Linked DNA regions of Homo sapiens: region 1 is linked to region 2. Evidence: fine-mapped expression QTL. A gene starts in region 2. The other region holds a variant in brackets. All regions are shown on one strand. Distances are between the middles of the regions.

Evidence for each region.
Region 1: its variant is fine-mapped to the expression of MLC1 in blood mononuclear cells (TOPMed, PIP above 0.99). The same link has a PIP of 0.9 or more in monocytes.

Annotation. Positions count from the first base shown.
Region 1 is chr22:50,117,719-50,120,629 of GRCh38, reverse strand. It overlaps MOV10L1 (Mov10 like RNA helicase 1), which reads right to left. Exons shown (of 27, transcript NM_018995.3): 10 at 14-128. Among named protein-coding and RNA genes, the nearest start is that of MOV10L1, 29 kb to the right of the region's middle. The variant T/C (reference allele first, on the strand shown) is at 1,652.
Region 2 is chr22:50,083,763-50,086,673 of GRCh38, reverse strand. It overlaps MLC1 (modulator of VRAC current 1), which reads left to right and starts at 1,248. Exons shown (of 12, transcript NM_015166.4): 1 at 1,248-1,319; 2 at 1,713-1,948. The coding sequence starts at 1,772. RefSeq lists an enhancer at 976-1,600.

The DNA.
Region 1 (2,911 bases), 34 kb before region 2:
AGACACTTCCTACCTCTGCAAGTAATGGCTGGAAAGTCAGGATGTCAATTTTTTGTTCCACACATTTTCTAAGTCTATCTGGGATTGGATATTGGGGAAGAAAACTTGGAAGTTGTCGTCTTGAGTTCCTTAAAAAATTAAGTTCACAAGTTAAAAATAAGTCTTTATCACCAGGTATCACTAGACATTCTTACCTAAACATCCTTTCCTATTTTAGGAAGACCAAAGTCCATCCATTTCCTGAGAAGAACTGATATATGAATAGCTGGTCTAAGGCAGTGGTTTGAAGCTTTCGTTTTAGCTCTGGGATCCTTTCCTCAAACAGTTCCCACAAGTGCTCTACTATTTGTAAACAGGTAAGTGTAGCTGCACAGGCTGTGGGAAAACAGGGCTGGAACCCCCAGAATCTCCTGGAACCAGGAGTTTGGAAACAGCTGTTTTTAACATTCTATGAGCTAAGCTCTTCCTACTATATTTGACATCAGGACTCCACCTGGGCCTATCCCTGCAAAGCACACATTAGGAAAAGGCTGCTCTGTCTGGGTCCTGCCTTCGATTTGTTTTTGTTTTGTTTCCCAGCCTGTGGTTTCTCTGGGGAAATTCAGTTTGTTCAGGATGAAGAACATCGCTGCTCTGGAGCCAAGCCCAATGCGGCAACAGAAACAATGGGAAAGGGACAGACAGGAGAGGAGAAGCCAGGAGAGAACAGGGAAACGAAAAGTCAGAGTGAGGTCGATAAAACTCAACTCAGCAAATAAGGATGTTGGTTGGACCTTTATCCCTCATTCCCTCCCAGCTCTCCATTTCAGTGCAGTCTCACCCAAGAGAGAAGCCCACATTGCTCTCCGTATTCCATTCACTGTCATCTCAATTTGGGTTCCACTGGCTCAGCCCTCAACAGGAGAAACGGGGTGAAGACATTCCCCATGGTTTGTGCTGAGGGTTATGTCAGCGCTCACATGCGAGGTGTATTTGGAAAGCATTGATTACTAACACGAACAAGGTAAAGGGAAACCAGGATGATCACTACAGGCTTAGGTCAACAGCCTGAACAGCTAACAGAACCATGTGGCCTCAACAGACACGCTGGATTAACAAAATGTGGTTCCTACCATGATGGGTGGCTAGAAACTTGGCTGGGAGTGTGCTGGCCTACAAAGCCCCCCAGAACAGATCTGCTAAGTGAACACTCTGCTCTAGCTAAGAGCCAAAGTTGCCTGGCACTGGGGGTCCTAGCAGGAAGTGCAGGACCTGTGACAGGCGGCCACGGATGGACAGCTCTGGAAGCAGGCACCCGCCAATGCCCGCGTGGGCAGGTCCAGACACCTGGTGCTCCAGGTGTGCTCGAGCCAACCCGGGTCAGGCACTCTGGGTCACTAACCTGAGTGGCAGGAAACTGATGTCCTTGTTTTAGATACGCTCCCACACAATATGTTAATATTCACGGGGAAGTAACTGACCAGGGGGTTAAAATCCTTGTGGCTGTTGCTCTGTGTATTTCACTCTTTCTGTTAAGCCAAATGATAACTAGAAAGCTGCTTGGTGTGTCACTAGATGAGAACCAGGGATCCTCCAAGGCTCCTGTCATTAAAACTCGATCCTCGGGGACTCTGCTCTGCCTGGCAGCCGAGGGACTTTCCTGCTCCTTTTC[T/C]GGGTTACATCCCTACAGCCCCTTGATGTTGAAACTGTGCCCCAAAGAGTTAAAGAAACCGATGACTAACAGAAATTCTTGAGCCTGCAGGATGGGTGATAAGAAACAACTCCAGCGCTGAGTCTCCCCCTGCTTATGACATCAAAGGACTGGCTGAGATCAGCTGGAACCAAGATGGACAACTGGAGTTTGTGCAGAGCTTACTGACGTCACAGCCTGGATTCCCACCGTGTTTCATGCGAACTCCCTCCGAACTGGCACATGTGACCCATGAGGTAGCATGAAGGGGTAACTATGCACACCCAAGGCCTTTCCAGACCTCCCTTTTCCTTCCACCAACCACCTATTAATCCCAGATTCTACCCACTAAACGTTTTCTGACAAAATTACTGCCTTAAAGCCAGCACAGAGAGACACATTTGAGCTTGACTCCTGTCTCCTTGGGGGTTGGTTTTCAATACAAAGCTTTTCTTTTCTCAGAAACCCACTGTCGTAGCAATGGCCCCTAGTGCATCAGGCAGTGAGCCCCTTTTTCTCAATAATAATATGCCCAGGGATCATGACTGCTTATTCGCTTACTGAGTGATTGCTTTGTGCCAGAAAACTGCACATTTTACATGTCTGACCTCATTCAATCTTCAAACCACACGAGGCAGGGACTATCATTTTACCAATGAGAACAAGGCTCAGAGTGGTTAAGAAACTTGCCCAAGGTCACACAGCTTCTTGGTGGTGGTGCTGTGATTCAAACAATGGTCTAACCTTAAAAGGTAAACAACCACATGATATTCTTCCCTGGTAACAGGTTTTCCCTTTAGTCTGCAACTAAGTAGAAGTCCATAATCCCTCATCTTGAACTGTAACTGGGGCAACACGTGATTTGAAATTCAGAATCTTTCAGTATTAGAAAAGTGACCCACCTCACCCTCAGGGAGGTCTGGGGTAGTAGCAGAGCTCAAACCCATCAGTTATTATAGCCGATGGAGGAAAAGTCACATCACACGGGACTAAGTCATTACACTTTAAAAAGCCTGCTATTCAGGGCTTTTTCGTTTTATAACTACAGAAGAGAACACGTGGATGTGAAGTGCTTTCCTGAGACTACCCTCCAGTTAAAATCTGGGTGGTCCCTATGTTCCCCAGCCACAAGTCCCAGATCACACACTGCTTCTCCTAACTCCATTCTTAAGTGGTACCACATCTTCAAACAGGCTTCAGGTGACCCCACAATCCTGTTGCCCCCAGTGCGAATGACACGGG
Region 2 (2,911 bases):
GTTCAGGGCAGCTTGTTTGTATTTCTAAGTGGAGAGCAACTTTTGAAAGAAAAAAATGTTGAAATCCGATTAACATTTTTTTCCAAACAAAAAGAAACACAGGAGGATTCGATCCAGTTGGACCCACTCCCACTAATCCCGTTTATCGCTTTAAAAGATAGTGAAGTTTGGGAGGTTTCTCAATCCATTAAAATGAGTTCTTGACTTCACAGATTATAGTTTTTGAAAATTATTTCTCATCCTTGCTTGATTGAAATGAAGACAACAGAACATTGGCTGTGGTGGCTGGCACAAAATTAACTAACCCTAAAATACTAGTATAGCTTAAACTTTCGTTTATTGCTAAAAATTTATCACTGCTGTTTCCTGTGGGGGTGAGGTTGAGCAAAGTGTTTTGAGCTGCATTTATGCGTACTTGACACTTACGCATTTTGATCGAGGTGATTTAGTGGGCATTTTCACTGGGACAGGGATGCTTGTATGTGTAATCTTACTAAAAGCTAATAAAAACTTACTAAAAGCTAATAAAAGCTTACTAAAAGCTTCTTGCTTGATTGAAACGAAGACAACAGAACATCCCATGGTCTGGAACCTGATGACTTTGCTCAAGTTTTAATGTGGGTTCATGGTTTAAGGAGCTGGTTTTTCAGAAACTTTAGTTTGAGCCTTTTTACAATGTGCACAAAGAACCCGTTGCTGTAGTTGTCAGGGTGCCAGTGTCTCTGGGCGACACACATTACTGTGGTTTTTCTCTGCTTGGTGAGCAGAGATAAAGGGGGCAGCAGGACCGGGCCCACCAGCCATCCGGGCTGCCCACGCAAACCACAGGGCCGAATCCGGAGCCGCCCAAGGCCACACAGCTAAGCCGAGTGCGTGAATGCTTATGTGACCGTGTGAAGGAGGTTCCCACCGTGTGGCTGTGGGGGATGGAAAAAGGCTACTTGGAAAGATGTAGAAGACCTTCGAGTAAACAGTTACGTTTCAGAAACAGAGCCTGCTCAGAATGTGTACTTGGTGGGATTCTATTCTTAGGGACGCTTCTTTCTTCTGAGAGACCCGAGCTCTGTGGCGAGTGGCACAGGCAGGGCCCCTTCCTTTCCTAGTTGGGTTCTGACAGCTCCGAGGCAGTGGTTTACACAACCAACACGAAACATTTCTACGATCCACCCGATTCCTCCCCTCATTGATATTCAGGAAGCAGCTCTCCTTCCCCTGCCTTCAGCTCAAGTTTGCTGAGCTTTTGTTTCATTTGTGAATACTTCTTGCTGGAAGTCCCTCACCCAGAGACCAGTGCTCCCAACGGCAGAGCAGCGGGGGAGGTAAGTGCTCAGACATTAAGCCGTTGAGTAGAGGCATGTTTTGCAATCTCTCGTTTAGCTACCAATTGGAGCAGTTTAACGTGCTTGAGTCCCCGGCGTGATGTGTTCATGGACGAAGTTGCCGATGGATGTTGTCAGGTGTTGCACCTGGAGGGCCCAGATGGATCAATGAGGCATTTAAAGTGTAGAATCTCACCCTGAACCCAGACTATTCAGGTCCGTTTTTCTAGGAAAGTTATTTCTTTTTCACTTTTAGATTCAAGTGCTCATTTTCTTCTTCAAATTTAGAGCACTTCAGTATGAACAATATTTCTTTTGTTAAAAAATATTTCTTGGAAACAACTTATTGAAGTTTCCTCAGAGTGGCCAAAGCCGATGATAATTTTATTCCAGATAAAGAACTGGTGACACGTGGCTGTACATTCAGCACAGCTGTGGTGTCCCCAAGTGCCATGACCCAGGAGCCATTCAGAGAGGAGCTGGCCTATGACCGGATGCCCACGCTGGAGCGGGGCCGGCAAGACCCCGCCAGCTATGCCCCAGACGCGAAGCCGAGCGACCTGCAGCTGTCGAAGAGACTGCCCCCCTGCTTCAGCCACAAGACGTGGGTCTTCTCTGTGCTGATGGGGGTGAGTAGCTCCACACTAAGCCCTTGGAGGGCCACGAGCATCTGGTCCCTCTGGTGACGGACTGCAGCGCCCTGGAGCCCCAGGTGGGACAGAGAGAGCAACTCTCAGACTAACCCTGCTGCTGCAGAACTCTTGGATGCCGACGAGCTTGTTTTGCTTGTGTTTTCACAATTATTTTTATTAATTTATGGGTGTCTGTTGTGCCAGCCTTGAGCTGCTCCAGGTTGTGGCTTAGTCCCACCAGGGTAGGGACAGTCCCAGGGCCATGAATGGGCCCCAGGAGTCTCCATGACCCTCGGCTCTGGGGGCCCAGGGTCCTCTGAGGGGTCACCTGCAAAGGTGGGAGGAGGCGTCTCAGGCCTTCAGGTCGGCCCTCACAGAGAGAACCTCAGGGACCTCCTCCTCCTAGGGAGGGCCTCAGGGGCCGGCTGGGAGGGAGCTGGGGAACAAAGGAACAGGTCTGGGGTGGACGGGCAGCGCCAGATGTCCGAGGGATTTCCCTGGGGTCCTGGCCATTCCCTGCACAGTCGTGGGCACAGAGATGATTGGAGGAGCCACTTGGGCCTGAGTGTGTGCAGCTGCTCAGAGCCATGCTGCAGGACAGGCCTCTATGCAGGGACCCCCGGTTCCGTGTAGCTTGGGCTGAGAATGAGATCCAGGCTGTGATTTCTCCCCTCCCTGTGCCCTGGCCTCCGCCGGCAGCCCCTGCAGCACCCACAGTGGTCCTGCCCACCTCCCGTGGCCTGAGCATGCCCCACCAAGACAGGCGTCTGCCTCGGAGCTGGGGACAGAGGCGGCTCCCGGGTGGTGGTGGCCATCTCCGGGCTCTGCCCTCCTCCACCTGGTGCCCTGGACTTGGTCGCAGCCCCTCCCCCGCCCAGGCCAGATCCCCTCTGCCCCAGACCTCGCTTCCTCTGCCAGGACCCTGGGTCCCAGTGACCTTTGATACTGACTCCCCTCAGA